Homo sapiens: one gene and its partners. The protein of the gene in region 1 interacts with the protein of each later gene in a biochemical or structural test. Each region holds a gene or a part of one and is shown in the gene's direction. Other genes may lie near its edges. The genes, in order: MAP7D2, TJP3, HTRA3, PDZRN3, FRMPD2, APBA3 and ARHGEF11.

Region 1 (3,500 bases):
TCCATGTAAGCAAGTGGCAAAGCAGGATGAGCAGGAAACTTGACAGATTGTAGATAACATTGGGAACTTCTTTTTTTTAATTCTGTATTTTGTTCACTCACTGTAAAAAAAAAAAAAATCTATGACTTGCCCACACTTTTCTAATTTGAAGGTCATGTTTGTGTGTGCATACAAGTGTGTGTGTTTTCTAACTTACTCTGTTTATTGGGCAGGGGCTGGGGTCGGGGACTGTAAACAGACTTCTTAATGAGCTTTATCCCAAAGAATCCACCCTTACTTCTCAGGTAGAAGTTATTTTTAAATGTGTGCTCATGGGTAATTGGTCCAGTTTTATTTAGAATGGAACCTCGCAGTCTGTGGCGTGAACTGAACCTACATGTGACCATTCTCTTAAAACAAGCAAGGCTGTTCAGGGCTATGCCAACTTGAGGCTGTCAGAACCTCCCCCACCTAGGCCACCCTGGCCTTTTCTCCCTAGGATTAGGATCTTGTCCTGCATTTCCATTTACTTAGATGGGTCTGACATAGCCAACAGGCTCCTGCCACACTGACTGAGTGTGTGAGCCATTTAAGCAGACACAGAGGTTGTGCTGGAACTCAGATGCTGGCTATGGCTGCTGAGGCTGCAGCCAGTTCAGGCCTCCCACCCACTCCCCCCAGTCCAGCCCTGGAGACCCTTGTGGTCGGAGTCATGTCTGCAGGAAGGCTTCTTGTCTGCCTACCCATTCATGGGCAGAAGTGCCAGCACACTTCAGGGACCCCCGAAGCAGAGCCCAACTCTTTCTATACTGCTTAGAGAAGCCCAGAGTGTGGGCTCGCAGGCCAGTTCCAGGGAGAGAACAAGAACAGGCAGGGTTGTGCACACCCAGCAGCTTTGCTCATTCTCACCAATCAGAGAAATCGTACCTCATTCCACGGGGAGGAGGGTGAGGGCAAGCAAGAAGATCAGGTGAGATTTGCCAGGCCTTCCAATGCCAGAAAGTCCTCCTCAACAGGTCAAGGTAGGAATGCTTATGGGATGAGAAAGTGTTTCCATCTGTTATCATCTACCACGAGATAGTCTTTCCTACAGCCTCTATCGCCAAGTTTCAAATCCACTCCCTGCCCTTGTACTGTTGTTGGATCAAAGGACACATATCATTCACGTGACAATCCAGTGGAGAGATAATGTGCTTTGATCTTGGCAAGGCACTAGACCAAGTCTTTTGAGACACCCTCGTGGTGGTTGGGTGGCGGGTATACAGCTCTACTGTGGGCGCCACTCACCTTAGATAACAGCGTGAAAGGAAGACGTGGCCAAGCAAAAGACCACCAGCTGTATCTTTATACATATTAACTGAGACTAAATGCAGGCTCAGCTAATGTGTACAGTTAGTACACATTGTGTAACTCATTGGAAAACCATGCTCAATGGAGCACTGTCAGTGTGAGCAAGCAGGACATGGGCTCCCCTGTTATTACAGTTCATCTTCCTGGTTTTGGTTCATTCTTGTCTGTGAGGATTATTTGGATTTTTAGTTTATCATCTAATTGATCAACACCAATACCTAACAGCTATTGAGTGCCTACTCTATGCCAGTTCTATAAAGAACATCTTGGGGTCTTGGTGACCCCAAACTCAGACTTAGCTGCGCTGGCAACACAGGAAGTAGAGCAGAGCTGTAAGAAGGCTCTGTGGCTTAGTTCACTGTGGGAAGCCATTTCACCTCTCTAAGCCTAGTTTTCTCATCTGTAAAGAGGCCATGATAATAGTACCTGTGTCATACCATTTACACACATATGTACACAAATATGTGTCTGTAGACATTTAGCAGCCTAGTGGCTGGTGTGTAGACAGCACTCAGTAAACATGGACACAACTGCAGAGAGTGTGAATGGAGGTCTGAGCTCCAAATGGCCAGGGTAAGGACCTGGTCTGACTGTGTCAGAACACATGAGGACTCAACGTGCTGAATCGTAGAGGCACTCACACATTACCTCTCAAGCCAAGGCTCTCAGGAGCCTCAAGGTCACCATGGGGATTGGACACTACCCCTCCAAGCAGAACAGCTCCACTCTTACCTACTGGGTACAGACAGAGTGTGTGTGCATCTGTCTCTGTCTCTGTCTGTCTCTGTCTCTCTCTCTCTCTCTCTCTCTCTCTCTCTCTCCCCCCGCCTTCTCTCTCCCTCTCTCCCTCTCTTTCTCTCTCCCTCTCTCCCTCTCTTTCTCTCTCCCTCTCTCCCTCCCCGCCCTACCCCATGTCTCAGGGATTCTCAGTTGAGGGAGATCTTGTCCCTAAGGGGACGTTTAGCAATGTCTGAAGGCATTTTTGGTTGTCATAACCTGCGTGGGGAGCGGACTGCTGCTGGCATCTAGTGAATGGAGGCCAGGGATGCTGCTAAACATCCCACAGTGCCCAGGACAACCCCACAACAAAGCACTATCCAGCCCCAAATGTCAGTGATGCCAGGTTGAGGAAGCCTGCTCTGCGGGCGTATATGTATGGCGGGGCAGGGGGATTCTCTGCATGGCTTTTATTTGGTAAAAGTCTAGGAAAAAATAGAAGATCAGCGTTATATAGTGTACCTGGAAAAAACCACCTGATTGCTAAGCACTCTGAAAAACCACATCCCTTAGGAGAACCCGAGTGTGGGGCCTGAGCCCAAGGCCAGAGGGGAGAATAGTCTGCAGAGAGTCGAAGCACCATCCACAAAGACAAGGTGTCTTGGGAGTTCTGAGTTGCTCCAGGCCTAATGGCATGAGGACACAGGGAAGCCACTTGGCCAATATGAAAGTCCACATGCCACTTGAGGATTCTTTTCTCCTTCAAGACCAAGTTTAATATTGATCTGATCATATTTCCCCTTATTAGCAGGATCTGATTTGGTAACTCTAAGCCTCTGGTGAAAAATCGTCTTTGAATATCAGGGTGATTTGCCATTTTTATTGCTGTTTTTATAGATCAAAAAAGTCAGATATTAGCAATTCATGGTTCAACCTGCTGAGGATTGAGGGTGATGACTTGTAATTTCTGTATACATTACTTTATATCCTTCCTAGAGGAACTCTGTACAAATGCCCACATCCCTGTTCAAACCTCTAGGGAAACTGGGCATCTCAAGCTAAGCTGTTACCCCTGTCCTGAACAAGCAGCACTCACCAGGAGCCCAGCCTAGGCTGGCGTACCTGTAACGGACCCTTTCCCAGCAGACATAAGACGAGCTCCTGTGTTTTAACCAAGTGGCTTGTCCTCACCTTTTGCATCTGCCCAGTTGGGAGAAGAGAGATTCTTTTAAACCTGAGACCCTCCAAAAAACACCCCCCATCCCCATCTCTTGGCTGTGTTCCTTGGCATTTAAAAAGAAATGGGGAACCTTGAAGACTTGCTAAGTAAAATAAGCCAGACATAAAAGGACAAATACTGTGTCATTCCATTTATACGAGTCACCTGGAAGAGGCACATTCACAGAGACAGGAAGTAGAAGGGTGATTGCCAGGGGCTGAGGGGAGGGGAATGG
Region 2 (3,500 bases), on another chromosome or scaffold:
CGCTGGTTCCCAATCACACGTCATATACTTGGCTTGCAACAGTTTTGTTGACTGAGTGACTGAATGCACAGAAGAATTAAGGCACAAATGAAGTAGATTGCTGAAAAGCAGATTTTCTCTTTTTTTCCTTTTCTTTTTGCTATTATTATTTTTACTTCGTGAGGCAACAGTAGAAAACCAGGTTTTTTGTTTGTTTGTTTGGTTGGTTGGTTTTTTTTTTTTTTGAGATGGAGTCTCGCTCTGTCGCCCAGGCTGGAGCGCAGTGGCGCAATCTCGGCTCACTGCAACCTCCGCCTCCCGGGTTCACGCCATTCTCCTGCCTCAGCCTCCCGAGTAGCTGGGACTACAGGCGCCCGCCACCACACCCAGCTATATTTTTGTATTTTTAGTAGAGATGGGGTTTCACCGTGTTATCCAGGATGGTCTCGATCTCCTGACCTCGTGATCCGCCCGCCTCGGCCTCCCAAAGTGCTGGGATTACAGGTGTGAGCCACCGCGCCCGGCCAAAAGCAGGTTTTTAATTCATTAAGGTGATCCGAAGGTCAGGGGTGGTGGGAATAAGGGGCTTAAGGCTATGCCCATCTCCAAAGCCTTGGATTTGAACCCAGGTTTGGAGGATGGTACTAGGGAGCCATCGAGTGTTCTTGAGCAGGGCATGGATATGAGAGCAGACGGTGGGTGGTTGGAGGAAGACAATGTGTCCTGGTGCAGTTATCCAGCTTCCTCTCTTAGAGGGGTTGACAGTGGGATTTCTCTGCGTTGCCCATTGACATTTGGGGCCAGATCCTTCTCTGGGATGGGGCCATTCTGGGCAATGCAGGGTGCTTAGCAGTATCCCTGGCCTCCACTCACTCATGCCAGGAGAACCTTCCAGGTTTATTTTTTTATTGTTTCATTTTATTTTATTTTTTTGAGTTGGAGTCTCGCTCTTGTCATCCAGGCTGGAGTGCAATGGCGCAATCTCGGCTCACTACAGCCTCTGCCTCCTGGGTTCAAGCAACTCTCCTGCCTCGGCCTCCCGAGTAGCTGGGATTACAGGCACCCACCACCACACTCGGCTAATTTTTGTATTTTTAGTAGAGATGGGGTTTCCCCATGTTGGCCAGGCTGGTCTCGAACTCCTGACCTCACGTGATCCACCCACCTCAGCCTCCCGAAGTGCTGGGATTACAGGCGTGAGCCACCACGCCCGACTTGTTTTATTTTTGAGATGGAGTCTTGCTCCATTGCCCAGGCTGGAGTGCAGTGGCGCCATCTCAGATCACTGCGACCTCTGCCTCCCGGGTTCAAGTGATTCTCCTGCCTCAGCCTCCCGAGTAGCAGGGATTACAGGTGCCTGTCACTACGCCCAGCTAATTTCTGTATTTTGAGTAGAGACGGGGTTTCACCCTGTTGGCCAGGCTGCTCTCGAACTATTGACCTCAAGTGATCCGCCCATCTCAGCCTCTCAAAGTGCTGGAATTACAGGTGTGAGTCACCGCGCTCGGCCTGGTATTGAACACCAAAATGTCTCAAGACGTTGCCAAGGGTCCCCCTCTGGTGAGAGGCACTGGCTTGGAGTTCGAGGTGCAGGGGCAAACAGAGCTGCAGCCAAATCCCTCAGGCCAGCTCACCATCTGGCCTCAGTTTTCTCAGCTGCAAAGTGGGCGCACGAGTGTTGTGTGTAACTGGGGCTGCAGCCAAGCATATGCCAGTAAACATGGCCCGGGAGCCCCATTCACTGCTAGGACTTTAACCCACTTATTTCTTTATTTATTTTTGAGACAGCGTCTAGCTCTGTCACCCAGGCTGGAGTGCAAGGGCAAGATCATGGATCACTGCAGCCTCGACCTCCTGGGCTCAAATGATCCTCCCACTTCAGCGCCTAGAGGTGCCTGCTACCACACCCAGCTCATACATATATATATATATATATATATTTTTTTTTTTTTTTTGAAACAGAGTCTCAGTCTGTCGCCCAGGTTGGAGACAGTGGCACGATCTCGGCTCACTGCACCCTCTGCCTCCCAGGTTCAAGTGATTCTCCTGCCTCAGCCTCCCGAGTACCTGGGATTACAGGCGGGTGCCAACACGCCCAGGTGACTTTTTTTTTTTTTTTTGAGACGGAGTTTCGCTCTTGTTGCCCAGGCTGGAGTGCAATGGCCCGATTTCGGCTCACTGCAACCTCCGCCTCCCGGGCTCAAGCAATTCTCTTGCCTCAGCCTCTCTAGTAGCTGGGATTACAGGCATGTGCCACCACACCCAGCTAATTTTGTATTTTTAGTAGAGACGAGGTTTCTCCATGTTGGTCAGGCTGGTCTCGAACTCCCAACCTCAGGTGATCCGCCCGCCTCGACCTCCCAAAGTGCTGGGATTACAGGCACGAGCCACCACGCCTGGCCCATGACTGTTATATTTTTAGTACAGACAGAGTTTCACCATGTTGGCCAGGCTGGTCTCAAACTCCTGACCTCAAGTGATTCGGCCGCCTTGGCCATCCAAAGTGGGATTACAGGCGTGAGCCACTGTGCCCAGCCATAGCTTATATATATATATATATATATATAATTTTATTTTTTTTTGAAACATAGTGTTGTGCTGTCTGCCCTGTCACCCAGGCTGGAGTGCAGTGGCGTGATCTCAGCTCACTGCAACCGCCGCCTCCCAGGGTCAAGTGATTCTCTTGCCTCAGCCTCCTGAGTAGCTGGGATTACAGGCGCCTGCCACCATCCTTGGCTAATTTTTCGTATTTTTGTAGAGATGGGTTTTGCCCTGTGGGCCAGGCTGGCCTCCAACTCCTGACTCAAGTGATCCTCCTGCCTTGGCCTCCCAGAGTGCTGGGATGACAGGCATGAGCCACTGCACCCTGCCTAAGATATTTTTAAAAATTTTTGTGGATGTGGAGATGGGGGTCTCACTGTGTTGCCCAGGAATGAGAGTACAGTGGTGTGACCATGACTTACTGCAGCCTCCACCGCCTGGGCTCAAGCAATCCTCCCAGCTCAGCTTCCCAAGTAGCTGGGAGTACAGGCAAGTGCCACCAAGACTGGCTAATTAAAAAAAAAAAAAAAGGCCGGGCACGATGGCTCACGCCTATAATCCCAGCACTTAGGGAGGCCGAGGGGGGCGGATCACAAGGTCAGGAGTTTGAGACCATCCTGGCTAACACGGTGAAACCCCATCTCTACTAAAAGTACAAAAATCAGCCGGGCATGTGCCTGTAGTCCCAGCTACTCGGGAGGCTGAGGCAGGAGAATGGCGTGAACCCGGGAAGCAGAGCTTGCAGTGAGCTGAGATTGCGCCTGGGCAACAGGGCGAGACTCCAACTCAAAAAAAAAAAAAAAAAAAAAGTGTGTGTGTGTGTGTGTGTGTGTGTGTGTGTGTGTGTGTGTGTCTGTGTGTGTGTAGAGATGGAAGTCTCACTCTGTTACTCAGGCTGGTCTCTCCTGGCCTCAAGAGATCCTCCCGCCTCGGCCTTCCAAAGTGCTGGGACTACAAGCGTGAGCCACTGTTCCTGGCCA
Region 3 (3,423 bases), on another chromosome or scaffold:
CTTTCCAGCCTGGTGGATGAGCTGAAGGCCAGCAACCCGGACTTCCCAGAGGTCAGCAGTGGAATTTATGTGCAAGAGGTTGCGCCGAATTCACCTTCTCAGAGGTAGGCTCTGCCAGAGGAGATCGCTCGAGGCATGGGGCAGGCGTGAGGTCTGGGCTGGGGCTGCCCCACTGACCTCATGTGACCTTGAGCTTCCCAGCAAAGTGACCGGGAAGGGGCAGGTGGATTCTAGCGTGTCTGCTAAGCCAGAGGAGGCTGGAGAGCTGAATGGTCCCTAGAGCCCTGACTGTGTACGTCCTAAGTCCCACAATGTCATTTCCTTCGAGAAGCAGAGGCTGAAGAGTCCCTGTTGGGCTAAGAACCCACTCCAAGCCAGACTCTTTCACTAGCTGGGGACCAGCCTGGGTCCTGGGTCTTTCTGGGACTCAGCTTCCTCATTGTAAAGTGGAGATAATTCAGCCTATTGTTTTTTTTTTTTTTTTTTTTTTTTTTTTTTTGAGACAGTCTCCCTCTTGTTGCCCAGCCTGGAGTGCAGTGTCGCGATCTCAGCTCACTGCAACCTCTGCCTCCTGGGCTCAAGCGACTCTCCTGCCTCAGCCTTCTGAGTAGCTCAGATTACAAGTGCCCACCACCATGCCCTGCTAATTGTTTTTGTATTTTTAGTAGAGAAGGGGTTTCACCACGTTGGCCAGGCTAGTCTTGAACTGCTGACCTCAGGCGATCCACCTGCCTTGGCCTCCCAAAGTGCTGGGATTTCTACCCCCAGGAGACTTTGTAGATGAAATGGATAAAGGATTGCTTTCTTTGAAGTCTTCCAGTACTAGAGAAATGTTAAGCATTGCAACACCATAGGCTGAGGCAGGCGTGCAGCGACACTACCACATGCTGGCATGGCTGACCCACTCCCAAGAAGGGCTCTGAACCAGTTGCCTCCCCTCCTTAGCCTCGGTCTTCATCTGCAGTGGGAAAAATCCACATATAAGTGGACCCACACAGTTCAGACCCATGTTGTTCAAGGGCCGACTGTACTGTGCATCCTCAGAGGCTGGGCTTGAAGGTGGGAGGCCCCGCGTGAACTTCTGTGATGAGCACAGATGGCACACTTGTCCTGCCCGCAGCAGGCCTGCAGTAAAAATTGTTGAAATTGGGTGAAATTTTCCACACACATCTCAGTTAATCCTCACTGCAGCCAGGGAGGTGCAGGCTCCTGCCCTCACCCATTTTACAGGTGGAGGGACTGAGGTTTAGAGAAGTTACTCTTCCAGGTCACACAGCTGGCATGTGAGGGTCCTGATGCTGGTGCCCACGCAGCTGAGCACAGTACCATCACCTTCCTTCCCAGCAGTGGGGAGGTCTCAGTGAGCCTCATGCAGAGAGAAGGCTGGCCCCGTGAGCTCTGCCTCCCACATAGACGTCTTCGTAACTGCAGTAACAGCAGAACCTACTCCTGGGCCTTTATAATTTGCAAAGTGCGTTTCCACATAGGATGGTAGACATGAAAACTGAGGCACAAGGGGACAGAGTGCCTGGCCCAGCTAGGAGGGCTGCAGCGGGAGCTTGAACCCACCCTTCTGACGCATGGGAGAAGCAGTTTGAAAGGTTGTTTCCCTGTCGTGTGACATTGGTTTTCTTCTGGTGTGAGAGCTTTGGGGCTGGGGCACTGTTCTTTCCCATCGAGATGACTTTTGTTGAAATGTTGTCATTGACCCTGACTGTGCCTCGCTCTGGGCCGGGCCTGGGAAGGCTGTGCCTGGGGAGGCGGTGGGTGGTGACCCCGTCTCTCCTGTTGGCAGAGGCGGCATCCAAGATGGTGACATCATCGTCAAGGTCAACGGGCGTCCTCTAGTGGACTCGAGTGAGCTGCAGGAGGCCGTGCTGACCGAGTCTCCTCTCCTACTGGAGGTGCGGCGGGGGAACGACGACCTCCTCTTCAGCATCGCACCTGAGGTGGTCATGTGAGGGGCGCATTCCTCCAGCGCCAAGCGTCAGAGCCTGCAGACAACGGAGGGCAGCGCCCCCCCGAGATCAGGACGAAGGACCACCGTCGGTCCTCAGCAGGGCGGCAGCCTCCTCCTGGCTGTCCGGGGCAGAGCGGAGGCTGGGCTTGGCCAGGGGCCCGAATTTCCGCCTGGGGAGTGTTGGATCCACATCCCGGTGCCGGGGAGGGAAGCCCAACATCCCCTTGTACAGATGATCCTGAAAGTCACTTCCAAGTTCTCCGGATATTCACAAAACTGCCTTCCATGGAGGTCCCCTCCTCTCCTAGCTTCCCGCCTCTGCCCCTGTGAACACCCATCTGCAGTATCCCCTGCTCCTGCCCCTCCTACTGCAGGTCTGGGCTGCCAAGCTTCTTCCCCCCTGACAAACGCCCACCTGACCTGAGGCCCCAGCTTCCCTCTGCCCTAGGACTTACCAAGCTGTAGGGCCAGGGCTGCTGCCTGCCAGCCTGGGGTCCCTGGAGGACAGGTCACATCTGATCCCTTTGGGGTGCGGGGGTGGGGTCCAGCCCAGAGCAGGCACTGAGTGAATGCCCCCTGGCTGCGGAGCTGAGCCCCGCCCTGCCATGAGGTTTTCCTCCCCAGGCAGGCAGGAGGCCGCGGGGAGCACGTGGAAAGTTGGCTGCTGCCTGGGGAAGCTTCTCCTCCCCAAGGCGGCCATGGGGCAGCCTGCAGAGGACAGTGGACGTGGAGCTGCGGGGTGTGAGGACTGAGCCGGCTTCCCCTTCCCACGCAGCTCTGGGATGCAGCAGCCGCTCGCATGGAAGTGCCGCCCAGAGGCATGCAGGCTGCTGGGCACCACCCCCTCATCCAGGGAACGAGTGTGTCTCAAGGGGCATTTGTGAGCTTTGCTGTAAATGGATTCCCAGTGTTGCTTGTACTGTATGTTTCTCTACTGTATGGAAAATAAAGTTTACAAGCACACGGTTCTCAGCCAGCAGGGCACTGGGGCAGCCTACCCACCACTGGCCAGGGTTCTTCCTGGGGACCCATCTAACACATGACTGGGCATACCTGCAAAGACACGGGCCTTTAAAGGGTTTCTATGACAGCTGAGCACTGGGGCACACCAGGTCTCGGGGTCATGTGGCGCTGTGGAGGGCCAGCTCCGAGTCAGGCAGCCCGGCTCAAGTCCTGGCTCCTCCGCTTACTTCCGGCTTCGTGGTCTTGGGCAAGAGATGTTCCCCTCCCTACCTTGGCCTCTGCCTCTGTCCAGCAGGAAGGCTGGCTCTGCTGTGCTGACCTCCTGGATGCCCTGGGATGCAAGGTGACAGATGCAGCACTTGGGAAGCCACCCGGCTTACGGGGAGCTCCCACTAAGCCCCACTGTGCACGTCTGGTCACATGAAGAACCCTTTCTCACATCTATTTCACCCTCCCTGCCACCCATCCAGCGATGGGGAAACTGAGGCAGAGAGCAATTT
Region 4 (3,500 bases), on another chromosome or scaffold:
CTTTTCTTTTCCTGACCATCTCCTTGTTTATTAGCTTAAAAGGAAAGTAGTTAAAGGAAAAGAAAACAAAAATCTTTCATTCAACAAATAAGTATTGAACATAGGCTGTTTGCTAAGGGCCAGGAGATACAATGGAGGCCAGAAAGACTGAGGCCCTGTGGTCATTGAGTCCTGGTGGGGATGTCAGACAAGAAACAAGTGAATACAATAATTAGAGATTGGATTGGAAGAAGTATGATGAAGGAAAAAAAAATGGGAGGATGGCACATGGCAGATACCAGCCAAGAAGCAAAGGGTATCATTAGCTTGGGTTATCAGGAAAGACAAGAGGAGATAGTAGTAAACAGAAACCTAAAGGACGAGAAGATGCCAGCCATCCAGATAGGAATAGTGTGTGCCCTGCCCTCATGGAGCTCACCTCCAGATGGAGAGACTGATGAGTTGGGAGAGCATAGCACTGCTCTCATTGATGTACTCTGTGCCTGCCCACAGCTAATGATGCCCTGGGATGAGTTAACCCTGCGGGAGGAGGTGTCCTGGGGAGGGGCCGTTGGAGCTGAGTTCAGAAGGTTGAACAGGAATTTGCTAGATCAGAGGACCATATTTTATTTGTATATATAATGTGTACACAGTACCAAACGAATACATTATGTGCCTTATAAAAAGTTACGTACAAAAGGGAGTATTTTAAATAATGAAATTAAAATATGACTATGAAGAAAATGTGAAGTATGTTCTCCTGCCATTCCAATGCATTGTGTTACACGCATTCACCTGTGAAGACCCCTGAGCTAGAAGAAAGCGGTTGGACGCTGGGGTTTTGCAGGGGTGGGGATTGGCGCTCATACAAGGCCTGGAGCAGGAACAGAGTTGGGAACTGGGGGAGCTGCAAGTAAGCAGAGTGTGGAAAGAGTTGAGGGATGGGCAGGGAAGTGGCCAGAAAGAGGCCTGGTGAAGAAAACAAGGGCTTGACCCCAAAGGGCCTAAGTCTTGAGTCTGGGATTTAAATTACCTAGGGCGGGAGTGGCCAACACATGGCTTCAGTTGAAGGGAATGACACAAAGAGATTTATGATTAAATTCCCTTTGCTTTTAGCCCATTCCACAGTTTCAAAAAGAAACAAACAATGGCTTATTATAAGAAACAACAACTTAATTATGTGTTTGCAGTTGTTAAAATGATGAACATTATCTGTCTTATCAAACATACATATAAAAAAGAACATTTTAAATGGTGAGACTAAATTGTAAATATGAAGGTAGATGGGGACAGGGATAATTCCCACTTTATTGAGCCCCAGGGATGTCATCACATGGTTGTATTTCTTGCATTCGCTCTGTGGAATTCTTAAAAAACTATAGAACCGCGTGAGGTTGGTATATTTTTATTTTTTCCTTTTACCAGTTGTCTGAGATCCCAGGCTGCATGTCATCATGTGCTGTTCTGATTTAGTCCTTGCTGCCAGGGGTCCTCCGTACTCTCCAGCCTTCGGAGGGACTGAGGGAGCAAACTGCACTCAAATATCTAGACATTTGGCTCCAGGAAGCAGCAGGGTCAGACTTGAGCCCGTGGTTCAGAACATGAGCCCATGTTCTACAACTTACCATCAAGAACATGTTTTGCCATTTAGCACAGATGAGTTGGCTGTTCCTTGTTTACATTCATAATTATTCCTCCACCCTTTGTTACCAGTTTTGAGAAACAACTTTAATAAATTAAGATTCACTTCACAATTAGGTGTTTCACAAGCTATAGCAAACAAAAGAACCCAAACCAAGAAGACCTATTCCCTGCCCCAGGTCTAAACCACACCAAAGCCTACTGTTGGAAATTGCTCAAAATGGAGAGGCCTGTGGCCAAGTGATTGTTGGGAAACCTACTGTGTTAAAGCCAGTGAAGATGGTGTTCAGTTTCCACACTCACCAGGTGCAAAATGACATTCCAACCCCACTGGAATACAGTTCTTCCCTGTGCTTATCAAAGAGCATGTCTAAGTTATTTTCTTTTTCTTTTTTACAAAAGGTGCTTTAAGTACAAGCCAGACCTGATTTTGTAGCTTGCATTAGTATTTTCAATTTATGTGGTCTTTTTGCAAGAACTGCCTGCATGGTCCCCAGAGGAAAATTTAATTCCATGTGCATGTGTTTGCCATAGTGTTTTTCAAAATTTGCCCTGATTAGCAGAAATAGCATCATGAAACCTGAATGTATTCTGCACTGTTGCCTGGAAAATCTGGCAGGTCATTGAGTACATGCTAAAAAGCCAAGATGAGCAACAATGCACACACGTTGTTAGTTACTAGAAGAATACAGTACAAATGATGTCTGTGTTTCCCAAGGAATTCCTGTGTTAGATGCTTGGTTGGGTTGTGAAATAGCCCAGCCATAGCTCTGACATAAGGCTTTTCATTGCATGATCAGTATGCAATACTCTTAGCAAAATCATATCATTCATTTGTTAGTCCTCATAACCCTAAAGAAACAGCAGCTAGTCTGTTGTATCAAACCTCTCACTTAAGCCTTTGGGAAGTGTACTTTATCGTTAGGTACCCTTGCTATGAAAACAATCCCCTTTCATTTCTCTCTTACTCAAGGCAGCAAAACAAAATAAATTCCAAGTCATATTAGTTCACCTTGATAAATAGCTGTAACTAACTCTCTTAGGAGAGGAGCCAAACAAACTAAGAATAAAGAGATGCCTTTTAAGAGAGAAATCTAGCTTTTTTTTTTTTTTTGAGACGGGGGTCTCACTCTGTCACCCAGGTTGGAGTGCAACGGCACAATCTTGGCTCACTGCAACCTCTGCCTCCCAGGCTCAAGCCATCCTCCCACCTCAGCCTCCCAAGTAGCTGGGACCATAAATGCTCGGCTAAATTTTTGTATTGCTAGAGATGGGGTTTCACCATGTTGTTCAGGCTGGTCTTGAATTCCTGAGCTCAGGCGATCCACCAGCCTCGGCCTCCCAAAGTGCTGGGATTGCAGGTGTGAGCTGCCATGCCTGGCCTGCTTTATGTGCTTTTTGCATCCTTCCCCACCCCTCACCACTGTCTCAGTTTAATCTCACTGCTGGTGTTTGTTCTTGCTTCTTCCTCTCTGATTTTTGCTTGAACTTTCTAGTACTCCTTAAGAGTTATTACTTATGTGCAATGTGGTATTTTGCAAAACAAACGAAAGCCAAAATCCTATCCCCTATCTCCCTCTTTCTCTCCAGCCAAGAAATGCAAAGTGGTTAAATCAGAGTAAACACAGATCTCTTTTCATTTGATATATTGACATCACCTCTTAGGGAACTCAAGCTTGTTCATAAATCTTTTGTGGTCCATTGAGACTCTTCAAGTTCATCTAGTGGAATATTCCATAGCCTGAAATGTTGGACTTCTGAATTCCTGTGTGTTTTGAGTTTTCTCAGTGGGAGACAATATTGCACACAGAGCATGTAATGTGCAAGAGGATCCGCTTCGCCTCAGTTTGAAACTGAGCCATACCACTTTTTAGCTGTGT
Region 5 (3,500 bases), on another chromosome or scaffold:
ACTAAGAGTGCTGGTGTTTGACACTTACTATCTCATTTCAGTTCCCTTAGAAGCCTGGGAAGTAGGAATGTTATTCTTATTTTATGGTTGAAAAAATGGAGGTTTACAGGATCACGTATCTTGCACATAGTAGGAGGCTCATATGAAGCCAGAGTTACCTCAGTGTCCCCTCTGAGACATAAAGATCCTACAGCCATTTTTCCCAGTGTCCTCCTAATAACTAGATCAGCCCTCGATGGGGTCCCTCTGAGGAGCTGCTGGATGACTGGACACAAGGCTGCCCTCCCCGGGCCATCATCCATACTCAGAAATGCCAAGAAGTTGCCTCCCTGAGCCACCTTATCTAACCTCACTGTCCTTCCCCGTGGGCCACCTTATCTAACCTCATTTTCTTTTCCCGGCAGCCCCTGCACTGGCCGGGAGCAGCTGAAGAGTGCCTGTGTGATCCAGAAGCCAATGACCTGGGACTCTCTCTCTGGACCACCTGTTCAGAGCATGCATGCAGGTATGGGCCAGGCCACGACCAGGTCTTGGGTGGAGGAACCCCTACGCAGGAAGCTTGCTTTGAGTCTTTTACCACCACTTATTTTTGCTTCCCACACAATGTTTGTAACCTTCTTGTTTTTTGAATTGTTTTCTTTTTAAACTACTTGTGATTGGGAAGAGGCGTTTAGCTTTGGCTGGGTATGAGGATCTGAAATGTGTCAGCTCTGGCGAAGACAATCCCAGCACTCTTGTCCAGAAGGAAGAATACCTGCTATGGAGGGTGTGTTCAGAAAAAGGCACCATTCACTGTAGATATGCTTCTTTATGCAGGCCAGAACATCACCTCCCAGTATTCACCAGAAAACATACACAGAGTAGATGGCAGTCCCTTCAGCCATGCATCCTCCTGGCCAGTTCCCTGTTGAATGTGAGGACAAAGAGATCCGACACTTGGAAAAATATCTCTACTCAGTGAGCATTAAGCCTGAGGGTTGGATCAGTGTATTAGTGCGTTTTCACGCTGCTGATAAAGACATACCCAAGACTGGGAAGAAAAAGAGGTTTAATTGGACTTACAGTTCCACATGGCTGGGGAGGCCTCAGAATCACGGTGGGAGGTGAAAGGCACTTCTTACATGATGGCAGCAAGAGAAAAATGAGGAAGAAACAAAAGCGGAAACCCCGGATAAACCCATCAGATCTCGTGAGACTTATTCACTATCACGAGAATAGCATGGGAAAGACCAGCCCCCGTGATTCAGTTACTTCCCCCTGGGTCCCTCCCACAGCATGCAGGAATTCTGGGAGATACAATTCAAGTTGAGATTTGGGTGGGGACACAGCCAAACCATATCAATCAGGAAAACTGCCAGGCAACTCTTTACAAGTAACTTGTCTGCCAATTTCTGCCAAGGTCCCTGGGGGAGGGAGAGACATGGAAGGACTGAAGTGGTGGGTCACCATTTGGGGATTTTCCCAAGTACACTGTGGCACACACTGAAGTGCCCCACTCCAGGACTCCAGCTCTCCAGGAACAGCTTCAGGGCTCTGCCTGGGGCTCCTCCATGATCCAAGCCAGGGGAAGACCACAGGTCACACAGGCTGGGCTGCTGGCACCTTGTCACCCCTGGTTATTTGAGGCCTGGGATGGGAAGGCTTTACTGTCTCACCTCTGTTTTAGCTTTTGTTTTTGTTTTGACTCTCAGCAATTATTAATACATCTCTGCTCATCCTCTGTCTTGTCCCAAAACCAATGCGGAAAAAAATAGCTACAGTAAGTCATACAGAAAACAAGCACCATAGCCCATCCTGTTCTTGCCTCTGCTCTTTAAGCTGGAACTTGAGCAACACTGAGTGACACTCCAGAGAGGCTCATGTGAGTGTGTGTTCAGGTGTCCATTCCCAGCACTGCTGGGAGATTAAATATGAGCTACTTTTGTTTTCAGGATTGTGTGCGTGTGAATGTGTGTGCGCGCATGTGTGTGAAATGCTGTTTACTCCTTTTGTATTAGCTCCCAAATAATTTGGGGGAAAAGCACAATGTGGTGCTCTGATTCTACCTCTAGGCTCAAAGAATAATAGGAGGAAGAGCTTTATAGCTGAACCGGGCCGAGAAATTGTACGTGTGACACTGAAACGTGACCCACATCGTGGTTTTGGTAAGAGGGCTCCCTGTAGGTGAGGCCCAGTCTCTACTGCTGGGCAAAGTGGGGAGGTGGGTACTGTTTTCCCTTTCAACTTGCCTACTCCCCTTTCCTATCCCTCCTCTCCCAGTCTGCCTTTTCTGGTAATCACTTCTGTTTTTTTTCTCCCTTTAATTGTTCCTAAAGAGCAATGGGACTTTTGTTTCCAAGTTTTTCTTTTTGGGGTGCATCTAAGTACAATGCAGAAAAAGATTTTTTCCCCTAATACCATGTAACAACATTCCTCTAGTCAGCTATGGGGAAGAAGAGTCAATTTATCTCACCTCTTACTAGTGACCACTTTCTAAGACCCGAAAAACTGTAGAAGAAACAAGGTACGGAGACAAGGTACTTGATTAAAAATCATTTCTTTCCTATGTCTCATTATCTACTGGAGCAAAATCCAGTGCATATTGGTGGTTTGTATTCCTAGCTTTAGCTGTGCTTACTAATGGGGAACAATCCACCTTTCTCCAAGTATCATGGTAAAGTAGAAAAGATCCTCTATTTGAGGATCAGAAGACCTGACTGTAACTATCAGCTAATGCCACTTGGTAGCTGTGTGATATGAGGGAAATAACCTAACCTCTCTGAACAGCAAAATCACTAAGTATCATCTTATCATGGACTATCATCTTGGATTACAGGGTTTGTCATTAATGAGGGAGAGTATTCAGGCCAAGCTGACCCTGGCATTTTTATATCTTCTATTATACCTGGAGGACCAGCAGAAAAAGCAAAAACGATCAAACCAGGTACATCTTTTTAAATTACTAGAGATGCTGTTTTAAGAAACCACTCTTTTTTATTTCCTTGAAGGATTATTGAGATGTTTTATTTTTCTAGGAGGGCAGATACTAGCCCTGAATCACATCAGTCTGGAGGGCTTCACATTCAACATGGCTGTTAGGATGATCCAGAATTCCCCTGACAACATAGAATTAATTATTTCTCAGTCAAAAGGTATGTTTTAACCCACTCTTGGGAGCTTAAGAGGCTCCCCTGTTTTCAGGAGTACATGATTACTGTGAGGTACTAGACCTTGAAGTCCACGTAGGTCTTCTATATTGCTTTCCTCATGGTGTTGGCTTGCAAAGAAGCAGTGTAGTGGCACAAATTAATAAGCTTTGCAATTTCAGGGGCAGAATGGGCGTTACCATGCTTGTCTTGCTGAAAGGGAGTAACCTACTCTAATTTTGTTAGACACGGCTGGATACAACCAGTCTTTTTTTTTCTGTCAACTCTCCTTGCATGGCAGGGAGGACCTTTTTATTGCCACCCAAAGTCCTTGTTGATAGGGTCGGCTCCAGGATTTCTATATTTTGTATAGAA
Region 6 (3,500 bases), on another chromosome or scaffold:
TCTGGAGAGTATGGGAATTTTAGACAGGCAGCAGGGTCTGTCTCTGTTCTGAGTGGTTCTACAACCCGGGAACAGAGCTGCCTGCTATCCTGGGCTGACTGCAGACGGTTCTAGAACAGTGGGCAGAGCTGGCCAGTTCTAGATTGATGGAGGGAATTCCAGAACCAAGAAGCAGGGGTCCACTGTGGTTCTAGAATGTTGTGGAGGTTTCGAAATTGGAGTGGGGGGTGGAGCGTCGTGGCTCACGCCTGTCATCCCAGTACTTTAGGAGGCCAAGGCGGGTGGATCACTTGAGGTCGGGAGTTTGAGACCAGCCTGGCCAACGTGGCGAAACCCCGTCTCTACTAAAAATACAAAAACTAGCCAGGCGTGGTGGTGGGCGCCTGTAATCCCAGCTACTCATGAGACTGAGGCAGGAGAATCGTTTGAACCCAGGAAGCGGAGGTTGCAGTGAGCTGAGATCACACCACCGAGCTCCAGCCTGGGCGACAGAGCGAGACCGTGTCTCAAAAAAGCAGGAGTGGGACTGTCTGGTTCCGGCCTGATCATGGAATTCTGGGGACACGGGGTGAAGGTATCTGTGGGTGCTAGATCTGGCTTTGAATCCAGCCATGGCCTGGACTCACTGGTTTCCCACCTGCGAGTCCTTGAGGGATGGACAGAAGGTTCTAGACCTGTGAGGGCCAGGCTGCTTGGATGGTTCTAGAACAGTGGGCTGTGCTTCCTGGCTGGAGAGTGCTAAGCCACCAGCTAGAACACTGTGTCTCCCGGCCATCTCGGAGAGCGTAGCCCTGGGGCAGAGCCTGTGGGAGTGGGCCCCTGGGGGCCGACCCTCTTCGCTGTCGCCCTCAGTGCCTGGTCCCTGTGACCATGAAGACCTCCTGGACGGTGTCATATTTGGGGCCAGGTACCTGGGGTCCACCCAGCTGGTGTCGGAACGGAACCCGCCCACCAGCACGCGCATGGCCCAGGCCCGGGAGGCCATGGACCGCGTCAAGGTGAGGGGGCGGCCGGGGCCGGGCGGGCAGGCGGGTGGGCTGCAGGCTGGGTCTGTGGGGGCCTCCACCTCCCACGCCGCCACCCACAGGCCCCCGATGGGGAGACCCAGCCCATGACGGAGGTGGACCTGTTCGTCTCCACCAAGAGGATCAAGGTCTTGACAGCGGACTCCCAGGTACGGGGCAGGGACCCGCCCCAGGGATGCGGGTGGGGTGATCGAGCCTGGCACGGCCCCCCAACCCACCCAGGCTGCCTCTCCCGCCCCAGGAGGCCATGATGGACCACGCCCTGCATACCATCTCCTACACAGCCGACATCGGCTGCGTGCTGGTGCTGATGGCGCGGCGGCGGCTGGCACGGAGGCCGGCACCCCAGGACCACGGCCGCCGCCTCTACAAGATGCTCTGCCACGTATTCTACGCGGAGGACGTGAGCAGCCAGGGCGCGGGGCCACCCTCCTGAGGCCCTCCTCACTGCAACTGTCGCCTCCCTCAGTGGGCCGTGCATTTAACCTCCCTCCCATAAGCTTATTTTTAAATTCTTTTTTTGGGACAAGGTCTCCTTCTGTCACCCAGGCTGGAGTGCAGTGGCGCAATCATAGTTCACTGCAGCCTCAACCTTCCAGGCTCAAGCGATCCTCCCACTTCAGCCTCTCTAGTAGCTGGGACCACCGGGGTATCACCATGCCTGGCTAATTTTTGTATTTTTTATAGAGACACGGTCTCGCTCTGTTGCCCAGGTGAACACGGTCTCAAACTCCTGGGCTCAAGCGATCCACCCACCTCAGCCTCCCAAAGTGCTGCAATTACAGGCGTGAGCCACCGCGTCCAGCCTCCTATAAGACTCCAAGACTCTCGGCCGACTCCCCGAAACCTTGCCCGCTCCTGGGCTGTCCCTGCCACCCATGAGGCCCCAGGCCCCCTGGCTGGGTCTTTGATAGCTTTTCCCACAGCCCATGCGCAGGGAGCTGCCTCCCTCATCGTCCCCCCAGCCCAGGGCTGCCCCTCCCCTTCCTTCTCCCCGTAGATTCCCCAAGATGCGGCTGTCTCTCCACCTCCCCCAAAGCCCCAGGGCAGAAGGCTGTGTCCTGGGACTCTCACCCCAGGTGGGGACAGGAGGGCTCAGCTCTGAGGACCCTGGGGACTTTGGGGACCTGGAGGAGGTGGGTGGGACACCCCAGGGACGCGCCACTCCTCCCCGCAGGCCCAGCTCATCGCCCAGGCCATTGGCCAGGCCTTCGCCGCCGCCTACAGCCAGTTCCTACGGGAAAGCGGTATTGACCCCAGCCAGGTGGGCGTGCACCCGAGCCCAGGCGCCTGCCACCTCCATAATGGGGACCTGGACCACTTCTCCAACAGTGACAACTGCCGGGAGGTGAGTGAGGTGCTGGGCAGCCCCCACCTGGTGCCCCCCACACCCGTGCACCTGCACCGGGCCCTGCTGAGCAGCCTCCGCGCCCCCTGTGTGTCCCAGGTGCACCTCGAGAAGCGGCGAGGGGAGGGCCTGGGCGTGGCCCTGGTGGAGTCGGGCTGGGGCTCCCTGCTGCCCACAGCCGTCATCGCCAACCTGCTGCACGGGGGGCCTGCTGAGCGCTCGGGGGCCCTCAGCATCGGGGACCGCCTGACCGCCATCAACGGGACCAGCCTGGTGGGGCTGCCCCTGGCTGCGTGCCAGGCCGCTGTCCGCGTGAGTTTCCTGGTGTGGCAGGGCCCCCACACTCCCAGGAAGGGGAGCTGAGTCCCAGAGAGGTCTCCTCCCTGGCCAGGTCTCTCCAGCCCAGCCAGGAGGGACAAAGTCGAACTTTTAAGTCCTGCCCACTGGTGTGCCCTTGGGGAAACTGAGGCCTGGAGAAGGGAGGCCACTTGTCCAGGGCACCTCCCTAGTACCAGAGCCAGGATGGAAATGCGGGTGGCCCAGCTCCAGGGCTGGGCCACTCTCTCTCTCTAACAAGAAACAGCTAATTTCTGGGGGGGTTTGTTTGTTTGAGACAAGGTCTCACTCTTGCCCAGGCTGGAGTGCAGCGGTGCACCTGGCTCATTGCAGCCTTGACCTTCTGGGCTCAAGCAAATCTCCTTCCTCAGCCTCCCGAGTAGCTGGGACCACAGGTGTGCACCACCACGCCCAGTTTATTGTTTTATTTTTTGTAGAGATGGAGTCTCACTATGTTGGTTGGCCAGGCTGGTCTTGAGCTCCTGGCCTCAAGTGATCCACCTGCCTCGGCCTCCCACAGTGCTGGGATTACAGGTGTGAGCCACTGCACCTGGCCATGTTTTTGAGTCTCAACCTTTGTTGCTCAGATGGGGAAACTGAGGCCCAGAGATAGGGAGGGACCTGCCCCCGTCAGAGGAATGAGGCCACAGTCCGTGCAGCCTCTTACAGATGTTTGCAGCCTGCCTGGAGAGCCCGGCTGTCGGCTTGGCTTTTGGCCATAAGGAAGCGATATGGCTCGGGTCAGACAGCTTCGACCCCATGCCCACCGGGCCCGAGTCTGTTCTCTATCA
Region 7 (3,500 bases), on another chromosome or scaffold:
TGAACAGCAAGCCTAGTGTCCTTCATTTTCTTTTTGCTTCTAGTCAAACCAGGCAATGTGAGGAACATCATTCAGCACTTTGAGAACAACCAGCAGTATGATGCCCCAGAACCTGGGACACAACGACTCTCGACCGGAAGCTTTCCTGAGGACCTGCTGGAGAGTGACAGGTAGCACTGGCTGGATGGGACTCGCCAGCTGCTCGAAGAGTGGGTCATGGGCAGGGCTGATGCTAGGGTTTAATTCCAGCTACTTGACCCCTCTCCACTAGCTTCTAAGGCTCCCTTTACAGAACTTCCTCCCCACCCCCAGTATCTTCAGGAGACACATTGTGTGCCAGTGAACAGGCCAGTGGAAGAGCAAGCAGATCCCCGACTTCCAGCCCAAGAACTACACACTTTTCAAATTCCCTTTGGATTTATCACCTGACTACTCAGTAGCCTTCATCCAAGATCGAGCTAGGTGATAAAAAGCAGCTAATCAGGAAACCCTAAGTGACAAGGATAAGGAAGACTATAGTGGGGGCAAGAGGGAGTCCTGGGGAAAAAAGACCCAGGCAGGCAAAAGAAAGTGGTTTCCTGTCTGTATGTGAAGAAGAGAGCCAGAGATGAGGTTCTGCTGGGTACTTTAAAGACAAATGATGTAACTATAGGCATCAGATGTCCACCTCAGCAAAGAGAGGCAAAGTGGATTGATTACAAATGGACTGTTTTTCCCTTTTCAAGAAGAAAAAGGGGAATTGAGACTGGCATCTCTCATATTCTTCTTTGGTCAGGTTCTAACTAGAGTCCCCATCTGGTATGAAAACTTGTTCTTGGACTTACTTGCTCTTGATTGTGGCATGACAGCAGTCAAGTCATGTCTAAAATTCTATAGCCAACACTTAAAAACCAACACCACCCTTAAAGGTGACTTAAACAGGTAGAGTAATATGGTCTTGTGTGGGGGGAAATAATGCTTGTGTACAGTCAAGCCTCAGAGCCACTGAGCTGGAGTATAGGCAGGCATGAAAGCAAGTCAGTATGCAGCAGCGTGGATATTCAAGCCATTTTGCCTTCGTTTGTTTGTTTGTTTGTTTTGGGGATTTTTTTTTCTTTTTTAAAGAGACAGGATCTTTCTCTGTCACCCAGGCTGGATTGCAGTGGTGCAATCATAGCTCACTGCAGCCTCAAACTCCTGGGTTCAAGGGATCCTCCCACCTCAGCCTCCTGAGTAACTAGGGATACAGGCATGCACCACTGCACCTGGCTAATTGATTTTTATTTTTATTTTTTTGAGACAGTCTCACTATGTTGCCCAGCTTGGTCTCGAACTCCCAACCACAGCAATCTTCCTGCCTCAGCCTCCCAAAGTGCTAGGATTATAGGCATGAGCCACTGCACCTGGCCTATTTTGCCTTTGAAATAACTAATTATCAAACCATAAGCCAACCTTTCCTGCTTGAATGCAGGTTACTCCTTTCTGTTTATATGAAGCCTTTTTTCAGCTTAACACGTGTTAAAAGATTTTGCTGCCATGAGAATTGACAGATTTACAGGAGACAAAGGTTAGATTTGTACTGGGGGAAGGTTGAGTTCTAACATTAATGGGTAAGTTAAATACGCAAATTATGTGATTCCTGTGGAAGCACATGATGTCGTAGATATATCAAATATTTTAAGATTATAAGACATCAACATTTTGAGAAAATATTTGAGACCATTTACAAAGTTGCATTCTTGGCATTGCTAGGTAAATTTGCCCTAAGACACTTGCTAGGATCCTAAAGCTACTCTAAGCAGAAGCCTTTGGGTTTGATGATTATCAACTCATTGGCAATCTCAGAAGAAATAGTATTAGCAATATGGTGGGTCAGAGATTGTTGTAGATACTCAACAGGTATAAGATGCCCCAGTTCTAGAAGGCAATACCCTAGGAATTTGGGGGCAAAGACAGATGATATGCCTCACTTCTTGGTGAGGAGCATTACTTACTTCTGGGTGCTTGAAGGAAGGTGCTTAGCTCTGCAGCCCCAGTAACTCCACTGGGTGTTTGTTGTGGTGGTACAGTGACCCATTAGGACACTGAAAAGTGTTCCGAGTTAGTCTGGGTTGGGATTGTTCTAACACAATTCTGGAGGGTGAATTCAATAAGGGATCAGTGGGCAGTATGTTTTCTAACCCTGCAGACAAAACCCTCAGGACCCTAGGAGATGAGCTCCATTTTGGATCATCTGGCAGTTTGGGCACAATGAATGGAGACCGAGACATTTAGCTCCTCATTGCAGCAACCTGCTGTGCTATTAAGAGCTCTGCAGACATTTCCAGGCCTCCTGTGGTCCTAGAAGCAGAGCAGGATGTAGATTACTAATAATATCAGAAAACCAGCCCAACAGGGCCACAGCATGGAGGTGGGGTGACCATCCTGGGGCAGCTAGGGGTCAGAGGTGCCAGCTGTCTTGGGCTGATGCACTGCAGGACTCGACACCGCAACACCCAGTCATCAGCATCTCATCAAACCCCAGAGACACTCAGTAGCCAAGCACGGCAGGCCAAGGAGCGGGTCCTGCCTATCAGTAAAAAGGCCCCTTTAAGCACAAGCCTGTCTGCTCTTGAGAGGAAATGGAATCTTAGGAACAGTATTGTTAAGATAAGAATGGAACTCATCCACATCACAACTGGAAGGCTAAGAATCCAGCAGCAGATAGAACTTTCTGACAGGCAGTGTGGAAAATCCTAAAATGAGCTGTGAATATAGTGACTCCACTTTCCTCTTAAGACCTCTTAAAAGAGGTTCGCCTCAGGCAGAGTTAAAGGTGGGAGCTGACCCGTTCCAAAGCAGAGGCAACGTGAACTGGCCACTAGGGGCAGGGAGCTGGGACCTTGTGTTCCCTGTTGAGGGACGATGATGTCTACCACCTTCTTGACAGAAGCATGGTGTCTCAGGCCTCTGGACACACTACAACTCAGAGTCTGTTAGCCCCAGATTTCATCTTCCTGTTAGGATCCCTTCCTAATAGCTCCAGAGGAAGATGACTGTCCATCCATCAGGCTAGGCTGGGGAGAGAGGAGGAGTTTGTAGAGCAGCAAAAATAGTCTGTCATTGAGAAGCTTCCACTGCCATCCAGCTGCTTTGGCCATGTTCAGGAGGAGAACCTGTGGCACGGAGGCATCTTTGAGATGGAGCCACAGGTAAGAGTTAGCCAGGATGTAAGCATGGCCCACTGACTTCCCAAGTCCCAAAGTCTTTTGTCCCTTCCCCCCAGTTCACGCTCAGAGATTCGCCTGGGCCGCTCTGAAAGCCTCAAGGGCCGGGAAGAGATGAAACGGTCTCGAAAGGCAGAGAACGTGCCCCGCTCTCGCAGTGATGTTGACATGGATGCTGCTGCGGAGGCTACTCGCCTGCACCAGTCAGCCTCGTCCTCTACCTCCAGCCTCTCCACCAGGTGGGCAGGGCTACAACGGCTGCACCCATGGACATCTCAGGGGTGGCGGCAAGGATAGAGGGTTGCTGAGAGTTGA

Evidence for each region.
Region 2: the proteins of MAP7D2 (region 1) and TJP3 interact in a test that uses a peptide from one of them, tested with the Homo sapiens proteins (one large-scale study listed by IntAct).
Region 3: the proteins of MAP7D2 (region 1) and HTRA3 interact in a test that uses a peptide from one of them, tested with the Homo sapiens proteins (one large-scale study listed by IntAct).
Region 4: the proteins of MAP7D2 (region 1) and PDZRN3 interact in a test that uses a peptide from one of them, tested with the Homo sapiens proteins (one large-scale study listed by IntAct).
Region 5: the proteins of MAP7D2 (region 1) and FRMPD2 interact in a test that uses a peptide from one of them, tested with the Homo sapiens proteins (one large-scale study listed by IntAct).
Region 6: the proteins of MAP7D2 (region 1) and APBA3 interact in a test that uses a peptide from one of them, tested with the Homo sapiens proteins (one large-scale study listed by IntAct).
Region 7: the proteins of MAP7D2 (region 1) and ARHGEF11 interact in a test that uses a peptide from one of them, tested with the Homo sapiens proteins (one large-scale study listed by IntAct).

Annotation. Positions count from the first base shown.
Region 1 is NC_000023.11:20,026,408-20,029,907, reverse strand, and holds part of MAP7D2 (MAP7 domain-containing protein 2), read left to right. Parts: intron 1-3,500. UniProt on the Homo sapiens protein: Microtubule-stabilizing protein that plays a role in the control of cell motility and neurite outgrowth via direct binding to the microtubule. Acts as a critical cofactor for kinesin transport.
Region 2 is NC_000019.10:3,714,884-3,718,383, forward strand, and holds part of TJP3 (tight junction protein ZO-3), read left to right. Parts: intron 1-3,500. UniProt on the Homo sapiens protein: TJP1, TJP2, and TJP3 are closely related scaffolding proteins that link tight junction (TJ) transmembrane proteins such as claudins, junctional adhesion molecules, and occludin to the actin cytoskeleton.
Region 3 is NC_000004.12:8,304,176-8,307,598, forward strand, and holds the end of HTRA3 (serine protease HTRA3 isoform 1 precursor), read left to right. Parts: intron 1-8; coding exon 9-104; intron 105-1,795; coding exon 1,796-1,961; 3' UTR 1,962-2,923; downstream 2,924-3,423. UniProt on the Homo sapiens protein: Serine protease that cleaves beta-casein/CSN2 as well as several extracellular matrix (ECM) proteoglycans such as decorin/DCN, biglycan/BGN and fibronectin/FN1.
Region 4 is NC_000003.12:73,604,442-73,607,941, reverse strand, and holds part of PDZRN3 (E3 ubiquitin-protein ligase PDZRN3), read left to right. Parts: intron 1-3,500. UniProt on the Homo sapiens protein: E3 ubiquitin-protein ligase. Plays an important role in regulating the surface level of MUSK on myotubes. Mediates the ubiquitination of MUSK, promoting its endocytosis and lysosomal degradation. Might contribute to terminal myogenic differentiation.
Region 5 is NC_000010.11:48,184,197-48,187,696, reverse strand, and holds part of FRMPD2 (FERM and PDZ domain-containing protein 2), read left to right. Parts: intron 1-404; coding exon 405-505; intron 506-2,051; coding exon 2,052-2,144; intron 2,145-2,815; coding exon 2,816-2,923; intron 2,924-3,014; coding exon 3,015-3,131; intron 3,132-3,500.
Region 6 is NC_000019.10:3,751,693-3,755,192, reverse strand, and holds part of APBA3 (amyloid-beta A4 precursor protein-binding family A member 3), read left to right. Parts: intron 1-852; coding exon 853-998; intron 999-1,087; coding exon 1,088-1,174; intron 1,175-1,266; coding exon 1,267-1,428; intron 1,429-2,202; coding exon 2,203-2,373; intron 2,374-2,472; coding exon 2,473-2,685; intron 2,686-3,500. UniProt on the Homo sapiens protein: May modulate processing of the amyloid-beta precursor protein (APP) and hence formation of APP-beta. May enhance the activity of HIF1A in macrophages by inhibiting the activity of HIF1AN.
Region 7 is NC_000001.11:156,948,243-156,951,742, reverse strand, and holds part of ARHGEF11 (rho guanine nucleotide exchange factor 11), read left to right. Parts: intron 1-43; coding exon 44-170; intron 171-1,725; exon of another isoform or gene 1,726-3,117; coding exon of another isoform or gene 3,118-3,170; intron 3,171-3,223; coding exon of another isoform or gene 3,224-3,244; coding exon 3,245-3,424; intron 3,425-3,500. UniProt on the Homo sapiens protein: May play a role in the regulation of RhoA GTPase by guanine nucleotide-binding alpha-12 (GNA12) and alpha-13 (GNA13). Acts as guanine nucleotide exchange factor (GEF) for RhoA GTPase and may act as GTPase-activating protein (GAP) for GNA12 and GNA13.